Homo sapiens: one gene and its partners. The protein of the gene in region 2 purifies or fractionates together with the protein of the main gene of each other region. This does not show direct contact. Each region holds a gene or a part of one and is shown on either strand. Other genes may lie near its edges.

Region 1 (7,176 bases), on a different chromosome or scaffold from region 2:
GAAGAGATGGTATAATCCACTATTAGGATTCTCCAGGCTTTTTAGTCTGGGGCCACCTTTTGGGAAAAGGTTCATTTTCTCATATGGGCCGGGTGACTACTTTGATCACAGTTCCTCTCTCCAACCCCAACTGATACATATTTTATAGTGTATACTGGACAGGCATAGCCCAGCTGACAGACCAGTGTCATAGAGTGTGACAGGAGAGCAACACGTTAAACGAGGCCCTCAAATATTAATATGTTGCATCTCAATGTAGCTCTTCTCTTCTAACTTGAACATTCACCTTTTCCTGTTTGTGATGCCTTTGATGAGTCCCTGATTCATAATGGCCAGCTAAGTTTCCTTTCTAGCCCCTGGCTCAAACCTCAGCATTCTTAGGCACAGGAGTCACACGAACATACTGTAAAGGAAACGGCTTCCTTCCCTAAAATAGTACCCAGGCTGAGATCTGAATAAAGCACTTCTAGGTGAACACCAGTGGTAGAACCTCATACTGCTAAAGTTTCTCCAGTTTCTGCTTCCCTTTGGGGTAGCTCCTTCCTCGGAGGTTCCTTCCTCTAATTCTTAACGCTACACTCCCTTCAATTTCTGGCCCAAATGGTCACGATGCTTATTTAGCTCCTTGACCATGGCTGATTCCCCATTTTTCTCTGAAACTGCTATAATCTAATCCAAAAGGCTGGCTAGCTTGTAGGATACTTCTGGATTTCCCTGTTTCCAAGGTTGGGCCCTGACTCATCATAGGCATCATCCTATGGGTGCTCCCTGCTACCAAGTGACAATCCAAAAAGCCCGGAAGCCACTGGCATCAAAGGTACTCTCAGTTTCTGAGACTATGGAGACTCACACAATAAGCAATTTTGGGGTGGTGGAGCGGGGTGGAACCCACCATCTGGAGGTGCTTTTTTCAGAGCTCAGCCTGGGTGATATTTTAAGGAAGGAAGCCATTTCCTTTACAAGCTCAACTTCAGACATCGTCTTGCCTTGAGGATTTGTGTCAGGTCTGTAGTTGGTCCCTTCGCATAGTCCAGTTTAGTGTTATCTCAGTATGTTCATGAGCTCCTGTGCCTAAGAACGCTGAGGTTTGGGCCAAGGCAGGTGGAAGTTTTTGTAAAAATGGCTCACAGGGCCGGGCGCGGTGGCTCGCGCCTGTAATCCAGCACTTTGGGAGACCGAGGTGGGCGGATCACGAGGTCAGGAGATCAACACCATCCTGGCTAACAGGGTGAAACCTCGTCTCTACTAAAAATACAAAAAATTAGCCGAGCATGGTGGCAGGCGCCTGTAGTCCCAGCTACTCGGGAGGCTGAGGCAGGAGAATGGCGTGAACCTGGGAGGCGGAGCTTGCAGTGAGCCGAGATAGCGCCACGCGCCACTGCACTCCAGCCTGGGCGACAGAGCAAGATTCCGTCTCGGAAAAAAAAAAACAAAAAAAACCAAAAAGGCTCACAGCTGTCCCCCATAGGATAACTGCAAGATATCCCTAACACCTTGGCAAAAATTATACACAGATTGGTGTGGGAAAGGGTTTACACCCCCATGACAAGGATCTCGGCAAAAGTTAAGCAAAATGCGCCCTGCTACTTCTGTCACCGGTGAGCCAGGTGAGGGCTTAATTAATCCAGTACTCAATAATTAACCGAGTACTACCCAGTGGATAACTCAAAGCAAGACGAAGTTTTGGTTATACTTTTGAAGTCCCTGTCTTACAAGTGCTCCCCACTTTCCTGCTGCTACTCCTTTGTCCTTGCTGCTCTGTCTCCTGGGATACCCTTCTCACTTTCCTCAGCTGATCCAAACCTGACTTTCGGAGGCCCACGTAGATTTTCCACCTTTGTAAAGTTTTCTCAAATCACTCGAGCTTCAGTAGGCCTTCTATCCTTGAACTCTTGCTTCTTGTCCTAACTTAATCTACTAAACAAGCTAGGTCAGCTTTGTGGTCAATTGCTCAGGTATTATTGCCTCCAACTGTTACGTGTACATTTTGTACCCATGATTCCTTAGTAGATCTTTCCACATTTGGTCTCAATCTTTTTCACCTGTCCCTTCTCCAAACACCTCCAACCCTGTCACATTTTCCAGCCTTGACAGTTAAAACCCCCTTTTCCACATCACTAATGCCACTCTTCCTTTCAAGATAAACGCAGGCGTCAGCTCTTGAAGGTCAACATCCCATTTCCGGGATTAGGCGCGAAGGTGCCTTCCCTCATAAGGGGCTGGAAGGATGGGAAGCATCAAGATAATCAATGCCCAGGGCACACTGATTATCTTGTGTATTAAAGCCACCGTCCCAAGTACTCGTCACCCAGTACGACCACTGTTTCCTGAACAAACTTTTCTTACTCACGTGACAGTCCCGATGCCTGCAATGCTCTTTGTTTCTTCCTTTTTATTCCAGTGAACCCACAGTCAGTCTAAAAATCTTAGGTCCCAGGTCGCTTCCTATAGGAGGCCGCCTCCAAACCCCAGGCTGAGTGCGGTCCCGGTACCCACCCCTCCAGGGGTCTCACAGTTCCCTAAGCACAGAGCATGGCACCAACTGGGGAGTCTGTCAAACAGCCCAGATGAATGTCTTTCCAAACACGCGGTGCCTGCGTTTCCAGGGACAGGGACACGTCTTATCAATTTCTATATATTACAGCTTTGTAAACATAATATTTATAAAATCAAAGCGGGAAAGCCTTGTTCCTTGCTAGAAATGAGCCTCGCAGGCCACCACCATCCGCACCGTACGACAGGCCGTCCCTCAGCTGCGGCTTCCTGCCTCAGGCAGGATGTACCAAACGTGGAAGCGGAGACGGGGAGGTCTGGGGGTGCCACGCAAGTCCCTTTCCTCCCGACACGAGTGCAGTAAAGAAAAACGGTTATGAGCGTAAAGTGACAGCCTCGGCCGATGGGAATAGGGGGAAGTCCGACACTGAGCAACGAACGCATTCCCGCGCCTCCAAAACCTAGGCCGGGGGCGCTGGAAACCCTTACCGGCACCCGGCCACCGCGGCAGACGCTTGCTCCTGCCACGCCCCCCCCCCCTCCCCCGCATCACGTGTCTGCACTCGCTTTCCTCGGATTCCCGGATGTGGGTGAGTTCATTTGCTCGCGTGCAGGGGAAGTCTGGAGAAGGCATTGTTTCAATTATTAAAAGTGTGGGGGCAGTGGGCGGAACAAACGCGCCGACTACAGAGGCTGGACGTAAGCTTAGCGGTGGCGCGCGTGCGCAGCGCCGGCCCGAGGTAACGGCGGGAAGGCTCAGGGGCGTGCTTGCGGCAACCCTGTAACCGCCGGTGCGCAAGTTGGAGGGGCAAGGGGCTGCCGTGTCCTGGTCTGGAGGCGGCCCAGGCTGCCTTGGTGATTCTGGCTTCGCGGCCTCATGGCTTGCGGCCGGTTTGCGCAACGGCCTGCGAACCACCAGGCGCGTCCCCGCCGGCTTGGGTCCGCCCCGAAGCCCAGTCCCTCGGCCTGGCCCGCTATGCCCTGCACACTGGCGGAGTCTGGCGTGGCGCAGCCCGGCGTGGGGTTCGGCCCCGCCAGGTGGTCAGCCCTTCCTCGGAGTCCAGGTGGCTGGGGGCGCTTCGGAGAGTGGCCAGGTGGGCGAGCGAGCTGCGCCCAGTACTCACCTTCCCCGGCGGACCCACCTTCCTTTTCAGCGGAGAGACCCCAGTGCGGCCTCCCTGCCAGGGCTGCTGTCTAGCTAGCGCTGTTGGGACTACTTCATTCACGGCACAAGGGGACCCGCTCATTTAGTGTGGCATGTTAAGGTTGGCAGCTTTTAAAATAGTGAGTTGGTTTAAACGGTTATGTTAGTACAAGAGGTACGGAAATGTGGCATAAATCGTGGACTGAAATTGGAGAACCCTGAACTAACGGCTCCATGCACACAAATGAGGGATAGAAAGAAATAAGGACGGTTTCTTAGGAACACTTTAATCATGGAGATACTTGAAGACAGTACATTTAGGCTTATAATGTGGTTTTTCTTACGTCCCTTACGACATCAGGAGAGTAAAGATGAGTATGATGTCAGAGACAGGTCGTCTTTTACAGTTTCAGCACCGTACGCTGATATGCACAGAGTAGTTTTCCCTGAGCCTTATGTCTGGTTAAACTTATTAAAAGAATTTATTATTTTAATAAAGCAGTATTGTAGGGTAGATGCCCTGTATTTATACAGTTCCTCAAGTGCTTGCATTTATTTTTTAGATACGAGGAAATCATAAGGATCGTTGATTAGATTTCTGTTAGCTGTAGCTTAATGATAAAGTGTATATATTTTCTTATTTGGCATGCAGTACCATTTTTAGATTGATTTTTATTTTGAGTTTGCTTTTTGACTGTGGCATTATCAGTGATCAGGGTAGTAAAAAGCTCTGAAACTAAATTAGAGTAGAGATTTATAAACAGGCACACTGCCTTTTAAAATGTATGTAGATGCAAATCTAAAAGTTGTTTGTAAAAATTGTGTATGTTGATTGTACTGATGCCATTTCCTCTCGTTAAAATGGTGGAAGACCTTTGCTTAGTCCTTTCTGTTCTAATTTATGTTGTGCTGGCAGATGGTGACAGCATCAGTAGTCCACTCTGTCATTGCTTCCTGCTTTCAAAAAATGTCAACTTGACTTGAAATTCAGCTAAAGCCAACATTGACAGAAGGTTTCAGGAACTGAATCTCCGATCTTTATGTTATTTTAGTCCGCCTCCCCGCCCCCATCAGGAGCTAGGTTTTTCAGTTTTACAGAGCCACAGTACTGTCATTACACATACACAAATTAATAAAAATTCTCTAATGTCAATATCCAGTCAGATAACGATTTCTTCAACTGTCTCTTAAATGTCTTTTTACAATTAGCTTGTTTGAACCAAAATCCCACAGGGATCTGCCTATTGTGTTTGGGTGATGCACATTTGACATCTTTTAATCTATATTTGTTCCCTCATAGTTATAGCTATGGGATTAGCCCCTATTTTTCCTTACAGTTCTAAATTTAGCAGATTGCATCGCACAGTATCCTTTAACATGTATCTCTGTTGCCTTTGTGTCCTCTAAACCAGGGGCCCCCAAACCCGGGGCCGCAGAGCAGTACCAGTCCGTGGCCTGTTAGGAACCAGGCTACAGAGCAGGAGGTGAGTGACAGGCTAGTGAGCATTACCTACCACCTGAGCTCTGCCTCCTGTCAGATCAGCCGTGAGGTTAGATTCTCCTAGGGGCACGAACCCTATTGTAAACTGCGCATGCAAGGAATCTAGGTTGCACACTTATAAGAATCTGACTAATGCCTGATGATCTGAGGTGGAATAGTTTCATCCTGAAACCATGCCCCTAACCCTGTCCATGTGTATTATTCATATTACTGAAGAAGTGGTTGGCCGGGCGCGGTGACTCACGCCTGTAATCCCAGCACTTTGGGAGGCCGAGGTGGGCATGAGGTCAGGAGTTTGAGACCAGTGTGGCCAACATAGTGAAACCCCGTCTCTACTGAAAATGCAATAAAATTAGCCGAGTGTGGTGGTGTGCGCCTGTAATCCCAGCTACTCGGGAGGCTGAGGCAGGAGAATCACGTGAATCCGGGAGGCGGAGGTTGCAGTGAGCCGAGATCACACCATTGCTCTCCAGACCAGGCAAGAGTGCAAGACTCGGTCTCAAAAAACAAAAAAAAGTGGTTTGGCCATTCCTCCCCCAAAACATTTCATATGAATTTTAACAAAAAGATATTTACAAAATGTGTTATTTCCGCCCTGTCGGTGTTGAGAAATTGTCTTCCATGAAACAGGTCCCTGGTGCCAAAAAGGTTGGGGACCACTGCTCTAAACCAGTAGTTAGATGTAGAATTGCACTGTCCGGTATTGTAGCCACCAGCCAGCAGTGGCTAGTTAATTAAAGTGAAATAAAATTAAAAATTCAGTTCCTAGGCTGGGCGCGGTGGCTCACGCCTGTAATCCCAGCACTTTGGGAGGCTGAGGTGGGTGGATCACGAGGTCAGGAGTTCGAGACCAGCCTGACCAACATGGTGAAACCCCGTCTCTACTAAAAATGAAAAATTAGCCGGGCGTGGTGGCATGCGCCTGTAATCTCAGCTACTAAGGAAGCTGAGGCAGGAGAAGGAGAATCGCTTGAACCCGGGAGGTGGAGGTTGCAGTGAGCCGAGATCACGCCACTGCACTCCAGCCTGGGTGACGGAGCGAGACTGTCTCAAAAAAAAAAAAAAAAAAAAAATTCAGTTCCTAACTTGCATTAGCCACATTTCAAGTGCTCGGTAGCTACAGATTGCCTGGTGGCTGCTTTTTGAACAGTGCAGTTATAAAATATTTTCATAATTGCAGAAAGTTGTATTGAACAGCACTGCTCTAGAAGCCTGATGAGATTTCACCCTTATATTTGTTTTTGTTTTGTTTTTTGGTGGGATAGTTGGGGGGGTTGGACAGATAATTTCATAGGTAATGCAGTATACTTCCTATTTCATTAATTATCAGGGAAGCAGTGTCTGAGTTGTTTTCTTTTTTTATGATGTTAACATTAAACATTATATTGGGTTTAGGTGTAGTTAGCTCCATCCACCCATAGTGAAATTCCCCAAGACTCTTTCACTTAGTGGTGAAGTCCTTTTGTGGGGTTATATTGCCTGTATCCGTTATTGCATTAGAGGTTGCAACGTGGTGATTATCTAATTCTATTATTTCTTCAATATTTATCAACTGAGAGTCTTTTATGAAGAACTTTCCCTTTCCAGCTGTTTGACTACCCTGAAATACAATTTGTACAGGAAAGGCAAGAAAAATGCTTAATTCTTTGCCTCTATTTTCAGACCACAGTAATGAGTTGGTGGCCTAGCAGCCTCCAAAGGTAACCATGAGGGTTTTTGCCTTTTTGTAAACCTATAATCATGAACTTATAGACTTTATATTTAAACTGTTTCAACATATGGCAGTTGTGTTTTTAATACTCAAATTGTTTCATCTTTGGCCAGTGGGAGCTCCTTAAAGTTGGCTCCTATTCCATTTGATATGACCAATAGCTTTGGTAATTTCCTTGCTTTCTGGTAAATAATTTTCCTGGCTCATTTATAGATTTCTGGTCTTCAAGGAGCCGTGGTTCTTTTGAGTCTGAGATAGTATTTGGAGACCACAGTCTTACCTAGGTGGGAGAGGTGTTCTTGCTACTAGGTTAGTCGTTAGTTCTAG
Region 2 (7,022 bases):
TAAAATTTAGGTACATGTTCACAGTTTTAGAAAGGAGAAAGAAAATTGTATCTTCCTTTTAAAATGTTAGCTATAATCTATTGAGTCCTTGAAGAGGAAAAGAAAATCCTATCTAACACCATTTCTGTGTGGAAATAGATTCATTATTTGAAGTTTATTTGTCTGTTATTTTTATAATCTGTTTATAGACATGCATAATGTGGGGAAGGGGAGTATGAAACCTATCTGTACCTAAACTATAGAAAGGGTCATGTGCATAAGAAGAAAATTACAAATCCATGAGGCAATCAGAGTAAACTAAAATGCTGCTTTAGTTAACTATTGTCTTCTGTGCATTACAAAACTCAACTCAAAATTACATTAGTGTTGTAAGTTAGAGGTTTCAAATTTTACATCTTCAAAATTTACAGTAGTTATTCTAGAATCCACGAGAGTCACTATCTGCCTAAATTAAAGAAATGTAAAGAATCAAGTTTTATGCCAAGAAAAGTTGAATAATTACAATGATAAATACCTTGTTTGTGGACCAGAACTTTGTGTTTGTGCAAGAATTGGAGTTACCTCTCGGCTATTTCCACTCTGTGAGAAGACAGACTTTGTTCCAGTTTGGCCGATTCTGGCAACAGACTGTAAAACACGAAAAGTCTAAGGTTTGTGAATTATGGGCTGCACTGTAAATGATAAAAGACAACACAACGCTCCCATCTACATTTTCTCAATACAAGCAGCCATAATATACTGTCACCTTAAAGATAAACTATTTATATCATATTGTTAATTATTGTTGTATTAGTATGAACATCAGTCTATTTCCCTGTTTTAATCTCACAGTATTTTTACCTCTATAATGTCTTTTCATCTTTCGCTTTTTGTTTCAAAGACTAAAAATCCCCAGAAGCTATTCTTTTCATCTCATTGTGACCATCCTCCATTTATTACATACCTTCTCTATTTGGGGTTAAGTACTAAAAAATTTTAAGACAGCTAAATTCTCAAGATTTATGATTTATCTCATTATACACAGAAAAAAATAATAATACGATAAGATTTTATACTCCTTTGGCACTTGGTAACAGTTCTAAAGGAGTTCAGAGGAGTAGATTTTAAAAAAACAACCATCTGATTACTTTCCAAAACCTAAGGATATTGTTCTTTAGAGTTAATATTGCTTAGTTTTTCTAATCTTCATTAATTGGTTTCTGTTCCCTTGGAGAAAAAAAAATCTTTGCTTGGCTCTTCAGTCTTCTCTAATTTATTCCCTTATTTCTATTCATTTCCACCATCTAGCTTCTTTAAATGATCTATGACTATTGTATCAGTGCACTGTTTTTCCCCTTTGGCTACCAGAGAATTTTCTTCAAAACTTACTGTTACCCTGATGTCCTGTACACAATCCTCAAACTGCATATTATAAATAATCACTAATAATCACTGTCTCATCAGATATTAAAACCTTATTTTAGCCTTTCCTGCATTCAACATCACTGATCATGCCCTACTTTTTGAAACTTTGTGTTACTTCCAAAACATTACATTATTTGTCCTGCCACTTCATTTGCTGGCCCTTTATCCTTCTACTATTTTTAAATTAGGTTTACTCTGTTCTCCTTAGCTACTCTTTCTTTCCCTAGGAGAGCCTGGTCATTTTAATAGTTTCAATTATTATTTCTATCAGCAGGTCACATTTTTTCCTCTATGACTAACTTTCTACTGAATATTTTCATCTAATGTACCACCACTTCAAAATAAAACTTCATAAGCCTTCCTCCGCCTTTTCCAAATTGGGATCACTACATTCATCCAAGGGACAAAAGTCAACTCTGGCTTTTCCTTATTTATCAAAGAACTATGTACACTGCACTCAATACCTGGTTTGATATTTTCAGTTGACACTGCATGCAGACCTACATGCGTGACTTTTCTGGGAATGTCTTGTAATAAGGTAAGAGGAGAACAGAGGCAGAAGAGGATGAGAGAGCAATCTTATCTGGGCACTAAAATCATGTGCCTGCCCACTGTCTTAACTTGCTCTGGTTATTATGGTTATTATGGCTCTTCTAGTTTTGGCCTACTTCACCTGGCATGCTAACTACCATTTTGTTTTGCCTTCTTCATAACTGTAATGTTTAAAACAATCCATACACAAACTATTTTGCAGTCCCTTTTAAGTATTCTTGGAGTTCCTATTATCACTCACTAAGGAGTTATTATAGAAAAATCTTTTGCAGATTCTAAGGATGTTCAGGAGTAAAATAGTAAAAAAACAACTATAAGAAGAAACATGTTTCTATTAAGGTAAAGAGAGTATAACTGTTATTCACATATTAGTATGACTTGTTTAGCTTCCATTTCTTGAATATTTATGAAGCATGGCAATAGGTATTTTATATATAGAACCTAATTTAATTCTCACAGAAGTTACCTTGTGCCACAGATATGCTTTTTAAAAATGGTATTTTGGCCTCTATTTCCATATACCTATAAAAGGGAACATTATAAAACAAGAGCCTCAGCAGGGCAGTGACTCATGTTTATAATCCTAGCACTTTGAGAGGCCAAGGCAGGAGGATTGCTTGAGCCCAGGAGTTTGAGACCATCCCTGGCAACACAGTGAGATCCTGTCTCTACAAAAATAAAAGTTAAAAAAATTAGCTGGGTGTGGTGGTGTACACCTATAGTCCTAGGTACTTGGGAGGCTAAGGTGGAAGGATCACTTGAGCCTGGGAGGTAGAGGCTACAGTGAGTCATGGTCACACCACTGCACTCCAGCCTGGGCAGGAGAGCGAGACCCTGTCTCAAAAAAAAAAAAAAAAAGCCTCATGAAACTTGCCGCAATATTTACTATAAGTATACTACCAAATATTTTTCATTTTCATGTTAAAACTATACATCCATGATCTACCAAAAATCTTATTATCAGAAATATCTGGCTTTACCTGAGCAAATTTTTTTTCATATAATTATTAGTGTTATTAAAAAAACATATATACACAGTGGTAGGGACAAGTAAAAACTATGGCAGACATAATTTCTGTTATTTATAGTCAAGTAATATAAACAATATTAATTTTGTTTTTTAAAAAGGAAATTAAAAAGTAAAAATATGATTATGTTTATTTAACTATATGCTGAAATAAACTAAATTTGTGAGATACAATCTTACTTGGCCAAAAGAGTAAGAAGTCTGTCTCCTACTGTAACCAAGAGGCTACAACAATAATGACATTCTTTTATATTTAGATCACCCTCTACCTGCTGGGTTCAAATATAAGGCAAAAGCAATTACATAAAGTAAGATTTTCCCTGAGATTACCTTTAAAAGATTGAAATAAACAAGTTGCTTTAATCAATTCCCAAACTGCATTTTACATGGAAAATACCTTTTTTGAAGGGGCTCCGGTGGATGGCACATCAATTACAGGAGGTGTATTAGTGTAGTTTTGTAAATAGGATCCATCTCCAGGACTTGGGGTTTCTAATGGCAAAATCCCAAAACTGAGAAGAGGTTGAAATCAAGGTGTCAAAAAGTCATCAAGGCATATATAAAGCAGCAGTATACTTAAATTAGAAGGTCTAAAAGGAAGAGAATGGCAAATCAGTCTTAGGGACAGTGAGGATCTGAGGGGCAGATTAAAAATAAGCTGTGAATGTAGACTATTCCACCCACCATAACTAAAATTTTAAAAAGCTATCAAACAAGGAACTAAACTGAGCAACAATTACTGATCTCAGGAGATTTATTAGAAATAAAGAAGAGTAGCTTTATAAATCTAAGATCCAAATGATGAGATTACTTCAAATTCTTGGAATTTATGGGATTTAGACACAACTACAGAGAAAATGTCTCTAGAGACCATTAGATAACTATAACTCTCCAGAGTTGTAATCTCATGGTCATGCTATTTTAGTAGTTCCCCGGCCTCAGGACCTGATTCATAGAATTTCTTCTAGCATATATGTATATATTTTTTTGAGACAGAGTCTCGCTCTGTTGCCCAGGCTGGAGTGCAGTGGCATGATCTCAGCTCACTGCAACCTCCACCTGCTGGGTTCAAATGATTCTTGTGCCTCAACCCCCAAAGTACCTGGGATTACACGTATGTGTCACCATGCCGGGCTAATTTTTGTAATTTTAGTAGAGATAGGGTTTCACCATGTTGGCCAGACTGGTCTTGAGCTCCTGGTCTCAAGTGATCTGCCCACCTCAGCCTCCCAAAGTGCTGGGATTACAGGCATGAGCCCCCATGCCCAACCCATTCTAGCACATAATTTTTCATTTTGATACTTTTGGATATGTATCCTCTGGGCTGAGTTCCTGTATTTATACATACATATACTTCTAATAATTTTGATAAAATATTTTATATTAATAGGTGTGACAGCTAGGTTCAGTGGCTCACGGTAATCCTAGCACTTTGGGAGGCCACAGCAGGAGGATCACTAGAGGCCAGGAGTTCCAGATCAGCTTGGGCAACACAGCAAGACCCCATCTCTACAAAAACACTTAAAAAATTAGCCAGGTGTGGTGGCATGTGCCTGCAGTCCCAGCTACTCAGGAGTCTGAGGTGGGAGGATCGCTTGAGCCCAAGAATTTGAGGCTGCAGTGAGCTATGATTGTGCCACTGCACTCTAACCTGGGTGACAGAGTGAGATCCTGTCTCAAACAAAAAAAGGTAGGTGTCAAATTTCCTCCATGTTTTGGAAAAAGGCACTTTAACAGTAACCAGTGGTGCCCTGATTATAACATTTCATGAGGCTCACCGCTATCCATTAATGCACAGCCATAAAGACAGTATTTTTTAATGTGTTTACTACCTAATTAAGGAATATTTCAGAGTTTTAAATTTTCCTCCAATTTTTTTTTTGAGATGGAGTCTTGCCCTGTCTCCCAGGCTGGAGTGCAGTGACACCATCTCGGCTCACTGCAACCTCTGTCTCCCGGGTTCAAGTGATTCTCTTGCCTCAGCCTCCCGAGTAGCTGGATCTACAGGCGCGTGCCACCACACCCGGCTAGTTTTTTGTATTTTTAGTAGAGACGGGGTTTCGCCATGTTGGCCAGGATGGTCTCGATCTCCTGACCTCGTGATCTGCCCACCTTGGTCTCCCAAAGTGCTGGGATTACAGGCGTGAGCCACTGCGCCTGGCCAGTCCAATATTCAATATCAATTTTTTTTGAGTTGGAGTCTTGGTCTGTCGCCCAGGATGGAGTGTAGTGGCTCCATCTCGGCTCACTACAACCTCCGCCTCCCGGGTTCAAGCAATTCTCCTGTCTCAGCCTCCTGAGTAGCTGGGATTACAGGCGCCCGCCACCATGCCCAGCTAATTTTTGTATTTTTAGTAGAGACAGGGTTTCACCATGTTGGCCAGGCTGTTCTTGAACTCCTGACCTCAGGTGATCTGCCTGCCTTGGCCTCCCAAGGTGCTGGGATTACAGGCATGAGCCACCGCACCTGGCAACATCACTATTTGCCAGTTTTTACTTCATTTTCTGAAAACAGAATGCCCCTGTTTCCACAGTGATTTAGAAGTTGCTGTTGTAATAATCTGCATTACTAACAATATGAGTTATCATAAGATCATTTGGTATTATAGCACATTTGAAAGTATCTTGTTTGACTTACCTTGGGGTTAATGGACTAAGAGCTGCTGGTCCTCCTAATAAACTTCGACCAGTTTTTGGTTTATTTTGAACCTGTTTAGATAATATGGAAGTTCCTGTTCCCAGTGGGACAGTATCAGGTGAAATTACAGCTGAATCAATATAAGACACTGAGGAATCTGTATTCAAGGAGTACTTTGAATTGGAAGATTCTAAATTCAATCTGTTTAATTCCTGAAACAGAAAATTTCTACCAAGTCATTCACAATATATTATTTAGTTCAGATCATTCTTTGTAGTTTTCATAATATTTTGAACACTAGAATATAAGACACTTACAATTGTGTCCTGGGGTGTTTCCGTAAGAACTGTCTCAGGCTGTCTGTGAGATAAACTATGATTAGGTACTTGTGTTGTGCAAGAGTTGGGCAGACAGTTGCTAAAGTTCTGTAAAGATGTGAATTTAAATGTTTGGTCAGGATCTGGCTTTTCACCTGTGAAGACAAAAAAAAAAAAAGTTTGTCTCTGAGGAAGTGAGGAATACATGTTTTTCAAGTATGCATAAATCAGTGGAAACAGGAAATAGGCCTTATCCAAACTTTAAAAATCTCCTGTCCACTTCTGCTAATCAAATTTACCCCCAAAAAACCCATCTATCAATATATCATAAAAGTTTACCAGTAAGATAAAGCTGTAAATGAAAATAAACTACAAGAACACTAATTTTAAACATAACAAATCGCAGAAAAATGCAGATTTCTGTGTTTGTTTTAAAGCTGAAAATAACTAGATCTCATTTTTCTCAAAGTAGGAGATGAGGTTGAAGAGTTAAAACCCATCATATTTTACAGTAAAGGTTGAAGCCCTTCTATATATACATAGATGCAACAATGCTGAAAAATGGTCCTTTATGTATCCTAGGCCAAATATACTGAGAAATTCTCTCCCTGTACTGTTCAGGTCTTGTAAGTTTCAGGCATTTATTAATTGCATTAGAAATTTTATTAATTTTCTTATTCAGAAAGCAATTTTGCTAGTGTTAAACACACAATATAACCCATTCTAGAGGACACCAGATACTTGAAAATAGATTGGTTCAACAGAAGAATCTACTGGATTTAATCTTTGTGTAATTTTCAGTTATATGATTCTTGAAACATACCGAAGATTCTAACTTATTTTTTATTCTCAATTTTAACTTTGAAAAATATTTTTCTTGGGGGTAGATGATCTGTATTGCTCTCCAAAAATTAAGTAGCAGGAAAAAAAGAAGAGGAGATGGGAACCCACCCACCTCTCAACCCCACCCACCTACCTATTTCACATAATGATTCAAAGGGAGACCAGAGGAAAGGATTTAAACTAAGGCTCTTTTGGTAACATTCTGATCCTTTGGCAAGCCGATCTGTCTTGCTGTGGAGAG
Region 3 (7,022 bases), on a different chromosome or scaffold from region 2:
CAGGGGGAAAGGGACCGAGCACGGAGCCGGGCCACACGGATGATTTGTACCAGAACACAGCGGGGCACGGTGCCCGCAGGCTCCAGAGACACCAGGCTGTATCACAGGCCAGAGCTCGAGGTGTGGGGATGGCCAGGGTGCTCCTTTCCACCGAGAGCAGGTGCAAGCCACACAGACCCTCCACAAGCTGCAAGGGACACCTGGACTCTTCCAGAGCCAAGCTGAGGCCTGGAGGGAGGCAGCAGGCATTCGCCACCATGGTCAGCAGCCCGGCCCTACCACAGCCCCTTGGCCTCCTGCCCTGGGGGCCTCCGCCTGGCCCTCCCCTTGTCTGTCTCCGGAAGGAAGCTTCCCCCTTGGTTTCTAAAGTGGACACATCGCCCTGCCCTCCCCTAGGAGTAAGTTCCCTTGGTTTGTCAACACAGCAAGGCCCTCTTACTTGCAAAAGAAAAAGGAAAACACATCTAGGTCCAGCCTCCTTCACAGCAGACCTGGAGAAGCTGTGGACCCTCCCTTGAACTCAGCCCCGCCCGCCCGCCGGCCTCCTGGCGGCTCTGTCCTGAGGCTGCTCCTCCTGCCTGGGCCGAGGCTGGACCATCCCCTTCCTGGGGTACCTGGGGTTGGGGTCTGCAGACTGGATGCTGGCTGTGCCCCAGAACCCTCTCCTCACATGTCCCCCGCTGGGGTGCCCGCCTCCCCCCAGTCCTGAGCACTCGCTGGGCACACTGGAGGCCTCACAGGCCCCACACATCAGACAGAAAGCCCTGGAACCCGCCTGTGACGACCATCCCGACCCCTTCCTCCCCGAGCCGACACCTCCCACCTGTGACGACCATCCTAACCCTTCCTCCCCGAGCTGACACCTCCCACCTGACTATGAGCTCAGGGAAAGAACCGCCAAGCCTAGTTCCATCCCTCAGGCTCTGGACGCCTGTACTGGGACTGCTGGGATCTCAGCAGTGCTGCCAGGGGAAGTGAGCCAAACGTGGCCAATACCATCCTCTGGGCACACTGTCCCCATCTGCCAGTGACCTCCAGGCCAGGGCTCACTCCTCCACTCCCCACATCTGCTCCCCTCCTACTCCCACCACAGACCCATAGCCCCGGTCCTCAAGTACCACTGGAGCCTGCAAAGGCAGTTCTCGAGGAAACAGACCTGGAGAAGGGGGCAGGGCTGGGGTCCTGGGGGTCAGGTGCGCCTGGGAGTGCTGCCCTGGGCAGAGGGCAGCCCTGGCTCCCTAGCTGCCTCCCTGCAGTGACGCAAGGCACCCCAAGCCCCGGTTCTGAGAGGCAGAGGGTGGATAGCAAAAGAGGAGGAAACGCTCAGAGGGCAGGGCCTGCTGTGGCCACAGGGGTCCCCCTGAAGCAGTTCAGGAGACCTGGGCCCAGCACAGCCCACCCAAGCGCCTGTGGGCCGCGCGGACGCTCGCTCACAGGGGACACGGGGTTGCTGGGAGGAAGGCGGAGAGAGCGTGGGCCAGGCCCACTCCCTCTCCTGCAGAGGCGGCTGCGAGACAGGACCAACCCAGAGACACTCGGGTGACAACGGGGCAGCCACAGGCACCAGGCTGCTGGGAGCCCCGCAGTGCAGGGTAGGGGTGCCAAGAGCCCATGGGGTGGCCTGGCATGGAGGTACCTTGAGCTGCTCATACTTCTTGCAGTAAGCCTCCAGGGCTGCCCTGATATCCTCGGGGACCTCCAGCTTCTCGTCCTTGAAGGGCGGCCAGAACTCACTGGACAGGATGACAGCGTAGACCCCGAACGGTGGCTGCTCCTCTGCTGGCCGCTTCTCATCCTCCTCCCGGATGTTGGCATTGATGCGGCGGGAGTCCGCCATGTCCTGAGGAGGAGCCGGTGTCACGGGGGACCTGCGGGGCGGCCGGGCAGCGGGCGGGGCTGGGACCCACCTTCAGCATGACTTCACAGAAGTGCATTGGGGCCTCGCCAAAGCGCAGCTTCAGCAGCTCCACGTTGCGGATCTCCCTGGAAAGACGAGTGTCTGGGCAGGGGGTCGTGATGAGCCCCAGCCCCAAGGAGCACCTGTGGCAGGGCACGGGGGTGCCCCCCAGGCAGAGCAGGGAGCCTGTGTGGGCACCCCAATGGCTAGCACACCCCCAGCCAGGAGTGGGGGCGGAAGCACAGCTCCAACCAGGCCCCAGGCACGGCGTCAGGGCCCTGTCCCGAGAGAGGCTGGGCAAAGGCCCCGGCACCCCTGGAGATGGCCAGCGCGTCACAGGCCTCACCGCTCGGGGCTGAAGCTGAACTGGTGCAGCAGGCGGTCGGCCAGCAGCGAGCGGTACTCATTGATGAAGAGGTCCTTGCTGCCGTAGATGCTGACCAGCAGGCTGATGATGTCCGATGAACGCCGCTTGGAGCTCGACTTCCCTGGCATGGTGGGGGCAGGGGTGTCACCTGACAGGCACCTGGGCAAGGACAGGGCCGCCCTCCTCCCATCCCGCCCAGCCAGACGGCACAGCCCAGCATGGCTCTTCCTGAAGGCCCTCGAGGCTGGGAGCAGCCCTGAGCCTCCCGGGAGACCTGGAGTCAGGTCCTGGAGCAACAGCTTCAATCCCCAGCCCCTCTCACCCCACAGGGACCTTCCGGGACTCCCATGCAGGCTTAGGGGACAAGCCAAAGGTCCTGGGGTTTTCCTCTGAGAGAGACTAAAGATGTGTTGAAGACTTACCATCTGTGCCAGGGCAGGGGCCAGGCCTGGGCCCCATAGCCCTCAGAGCCCTCGCAGACGAGGGCCAGGCACAGATGGGCTCTGAGCAGGAGCTGGCACCCTAACGGGACTTTGAGGCCCAAATCAGTACAGAGCTCAGGGGTCACCCACATCTTCACTCCTCTGCCAGGTGCAGTGGCGGGGCAGGGACACCCCACAGCTCACAAGCGGTGGGAGGCAGGGCATCCCCCACGGCCAGAGTGACCAGCCACAGAGGAAAACAGCCCATCACCGGCCTGCCCAGGCTGGCAGGTGGCGGAGCACTGCCCTGACCTTTGACACCCTCAAGCCTCTGAGACACTAGCGACACCTGACACAGCCAAGCTCTGTGACAAGGGATGAGTCCAGAGCGGACGGCCTGGCTGAAGCGCCCCCCACACTGGTGAAAGGGACCATGTGGGGCAAGCTAACCTGGATCGGCATCCACAGGGTCCGGGACCCAGTCCTCTGGCTCGCCTGAGTCATCCTCACTGTCCTGGCCTGTCTCCAGGCTCGCCGGGTCGGTCTTGGACAGCTCAACAGCCAGGTCCCCTGTCCCGTCCGAGTCCCCCGTCAGCCCAGCCACAATCTGCCGCACTGTGTCCTCCCGCGTCCTGCCGATGTGAGTGCTGCTGTGGCCCACAGTGTGGACACCCCGCGCGCACCTCCCACCACTCATTCCAGTCCCGGCCCCATCTAGGCCAGCACCACCGACCCTGCCTCTACACTCAGTGGTGATGGGCTATGTACTAAACACAGGCCCGTCAGACTCCTTAAAAACAAATAAACCCAACGTTACTTGGGAGCAGCAGGAGCTGCGAGCGCAAGGCCGGCCTGCGCACCTGCAATCCCAGCACATAGGGACACTAAGCCAGAAGACCTAAGCCCAGGTGTCCGAGGCTGCAGGGAGACAGGATTCTGCCACTGCACTCCAACAGAGCGAGAGCCTGCCTCAAAAAAAAGAAAAAGAAAAAGAAAAAAGGGCCGGGCACGGTGGCTCACGCCTGTAATCCCAGCACTTCAGGAGGCCGAGGCAGGCGGATCACGAGGTCAGGAGATCAAGACTATCCTGGCTAACATGGTGAAACCCCATCTCTATTAAAAATACAAAAAGTTAGCCAGGCTTGGTGGCGGCCTGTAGTCTCAGTTACTCGGGAGGCTGAGGCAGGAGAATGGCGTGAACCCGGGAGGCGGAGCTTGCAGTGAGCAGAGATCGTGCCACTGCACTCCAGCCTGGGCGAAAGAGTGAGACTCCATCTCAAAAAAAAAAGAAAAAACAAAGAACTGGCTCAGAAGCCAGGCCAGTTACAGCCACAAAGCACCAAAGGAGTCCAGGTAGGGGCCAGACTCCACCGGCTCCTGCTGCTCGGCTCCTGGGGGCCACTGTGCCTGCCAGCCCCGGGCCAGGGCCTCTGCGACCCCTGAGGAATTCCCAGGCAGCCATGTCAAGGTCCTCATCCCAACACATTCTCCACCGAACAGCCCCAGGAGTGTCTGTTCCTTGCCGTGGGAAAGGCCAGGACAGCAGAGCCCACTCCCCTTGCCTGGTCGGCCTTGGGGACTGGTCAGCACCAAGGCGAGGCCAAGTGGAAGAGCTTCTCTCTGTGCTGGAGATGGGGAGGCTGAGGAAGGGCTGTGGTGGGCCTCTGGCAGCTGCACACAGAGGGCACGGTGACACCGTGTGACAAGGACAGGTGCCCGGCACGGGCAAGAGGAAAGGAAAGAGCCTCGGGCCTGATCCCGTGCACTCAGCCCAGCCGGGGGAGACCTTGTGTCCTGACGGCCGAACACACCCTCCGGCTGCCCCCCAGGACCACGAGGAGCTCAGCAGGATGCCCAGGGTCCCAGTGGCTCCTGGGCCAGCTGCAGCCCTCACCTCAGGTAGCGGCGGATAGGCTCACAGGCCACCTCCAGGATGACCATGGAAGGGTCCAGCACGCGCAGCGCCTTGATGGCAGAGATATAGAGGGTGATGATGTCACACGTGTTGACGCCTACAGCCAGGGCAGAAGCCAGCAGTCATGCAGTGCCCGGGACCACAGCCTCCCAGGGGCAACACCCGAGTAGACAGCTGGCCATGCCGGTAGGTGGTCTACAGGTCCCCACTGCAGCCTCGTTCCCTTGTCCCCCCATCCCCACCTCTACCTGTTCACAGGTCCCGCCCTGCAGGGAGGTCTGTTCTGAGAGAACTAAGTCTCATCACCTCAGACCTACCGGTCAGTCCTGACTCCCTCCAAAGAAGAAACAAGCAAGCTGACGGGCACCTCAGATCCCCTAAGGACCTCACCAATTGCTTCTCAACCCATTTCTTCCTTAGACCTACAAGTCCAGGGCTGGCAGACTAGGCCCCAGGCTCCCTGGACATGGGTCCCCTGGTGAGTGTCTAAGCCCAGAGTGCTGGGTGGCCGGGCAGCACACAGCACCTGGATGCAGGAGCCGAGTCTCCAGGGCAGCCTTGAGGGACACGAGCAGCTGCTGCCTCTGGTCCGTCCTCTCCAGGCAGTACTTGAGGTCCTCGATGGCTGGCCGGGAGTCTGGGAAGTCTACAAGAAGAAGAACATCCCTCAGGGACAGACATGGATGCGTGCGCACGTGCAGGCTGGTGCAGAGTGTGTGCGGTGTGGGAAAGGACACGTGCTTGCCAGCCCCAGGACGATGATGAGACCACCTGCTAGGCACCAGACATCCCCCCGACACTCTGGCGTGCTGATGCATTTGACCACAATGCCACAGGGTGGACAGAGCAACACCCAGGGGCCAGTCCCCAGCAGGAGCCAAGGCCAAGGCAGCACAGCAGTGGACACCCAGAAGCACTGTCCAGCATCTGCCACACCTGCCCTGATCCAGGCACGGGGGACGCCGCAGTGGGGACAGTCCCAGCACTGCCCGGTGCACCCCCCTGCAAGAGCGACAGCGAAGGCACAGGGAGCCCCAGACGTGGACACAGGGAGCCCAGATGCAGACACAGAGCCGACATGGCGAAGGCCCTGGGAGCCCCAGATGCAGACACAGAGCAGACACGGCGAAGGCACAGGGAGCCCAGACGCAGACACAAGGAGCCCAGACACAGACACAGAGCAGACACGACGAAGGCCCTGGGAGCCCCAGATGCAGACAAAGAGCAGACACGGTGAAGGCACGGGGAGCCCAGACGCAGACACAGGGAGCCCAGACGCAGACACAGAGCAGACACGGTGAAGGCACAGGGAGCCCAAGACGCAGACACAGAGCAGACACGGCGAAGGCACAGGGAGCCCAGATGCAGACACAGAGCAGACACAGCGAAGGCCCTGGGAGCCCCAGACGCAGACACAGGGAGCCCAGACGCAGACAGAGCAGACACGGCGAAGGCCCTGGGAGCCCCAGACGCAGACAGAGCAGACACGGTGAAGGCACAGGGAGCCCAGACGCAGACACAGGGAGCCCAGACGCAGACACAGAGCAGACACGGCGAAGGCACAGGGAGCCCAAGACGCAGACACAGGGAGCCCAGACGCAGACACAGAGCAGACACGGCAAAGGCCCTGGGAGCCCCAGACGCAGACACAGAGCAGACACGGTGAAGGCACAGGGAGCCCAGATGCAGACACAGAGGAGACACGGGGAAGGCCCTGGGAAGACTCCCCAGACGGGAGAGCGGACCCCAGGGCCGGGGCAGGACCACCTCGGACGATGCTGAAGAGCTCCTCGATGCGCAGGCTGGCGTAGATGCGGTAGAAGAACCTTTGCACGTGGCAGCGCCAGCGGCGCAGGGTGTTGCCGGCCTCGGGAGATGCGGGCCTGGCGGGGCCGTCCTGCAGGAACACCTTGCCGAGCCAGCCGACCACCCGCTCGATCCACTGTCAGGAGAACGCTAGTGTGAGCTGCAGGGAGGCATGGTGAGCCCCGGGCTGACTCAGAGGCTGGGAGGAGCCTCACGGCCACCCACCCTGTCGGCCGGGACCGAGGGGAGCCCGAAGGCCACCTGCGTCTGGAGGCTGGAGCACATCAAAACCTGCAGGGTGGGTGATGGCCCAAAAGGCGACGTCCCGGCCCCCCTGCAGTCTTCGTGCCTCTCACACGCGCCAGTGCCCACACTTATCACTGGCAGCAGCAACCCTAGCGTGAGACATGACAGACACACACGACCTGTGCGCTGTGCCTGGTGGGCACACTTGCCCCCACTTAAATGGATAAACACGCCCTTGAGACCAGCCGGGGGGCCCAGGCGAGCACAAACCTCTAGGTGGCAATTCCGCCGCGGGGCCCAGGCGTGCTCATGCCCCACAGACCTGCTACCCAGTGGCAAGACCGCACGGATGTTCACCCTCTCCACCCT

Evidence for each region. The genes of interacting proteins can lie anywhere in the genome.
Region 1: the proteins of CDC27 (region 2) and ANAPC13 purify together in Homo sapiens (affinity purification with mass spectrometry; 6 studies listed by BioGRID and IntAct, with this or other methods). This does not show direct contact.
Region 3: the proteins of CDC27 (region 2) and ANAPC2 purify together in Homo sapiens (affinity purification with western blotting; 20 studies listed by BioGRID and IntAct, with this or other methods). This does not show direct contact.

The regions. Positions count from the first base shown.
Region 1 is NC_000003.12:134,482,970-134,490,145, forward strand, and holds the start of ANAPC13 (anaphase-promoting complex subunit 13), read right to left. Parts: upstream 3,017-7,176; 5' UTR 2,983-3,016; exon of another isoform or gene 2,351-2,982; intron 1-2,350. Other genes in the region: CEP63 (centrosomal protein of 63 kDa), read left to right, coding at 3,751-3,758. UniProt on the Homo sapiens protein: Component of the anaphase promoting complex/cyclosome (APC/C), a cell cycle-regulated E3 ubiquitin ligase that controls progression through mitosis and the G1 phase of the cell cycle.
Region 2 is NC_000017.11:47,151,292-47,158,313, forward strand, and holds part of CDC27 (cell division cycle protein 27 homolog), read right to left. Parts: intron 7,013-7,022; coding exon 6,915-7,012; intron 6,094-6,914; coding exon 5,939-6,093; intron 5,834-5,938; coding exon 5,622-5,833; intron 3,574-5,621; exon of another isoform or gene 3,496-3,573; coding exon 3,381-3,495; intron 646-3,380; coding exon of another isoform or gene 628-645; coding exon 515-627; intron 1-514. UniProt on the Homo sapiens protein: Component of the anaphase promoting complex/cyclosome (APC/C), a cell cycle-regulated E3 ubiquitin ligase that controls progression through mitosis and the G1 phase of the cell cycle.
Region 3 is NC_000009.12:137,178,545-137,185,566, forward strand, and holds part of ANAPC2 (anaphase-promoting complex subunit 2), read right to left. Parts: intron 6,544-7,022; coding exon 6,369-6,543; intron 5,248-6,368; coding exon 5,128-5,247; intron 4,699-5,127; coding exon 4,581-4,698; intron 3,319-4,580; coding exon 3,137-3,318; intron 2,386-3,136; coding exon 2,244-2,385; intron 1,984-2,243; coding exon 1,908-1,983; intron 1,841-1,907; coding exon 1,637-1,840; intron 1-1,636. UniProt on the Homo sapiens protein: Together with the RING-H2 protein ANAPC11, constitutes the catalytic component of the anaphase promoting complex/cyclosome (APC/C), a cell cycle-regulated E3 ubiquitin ligase that controls progression through mitosis and the G1 phase of the cell cycle.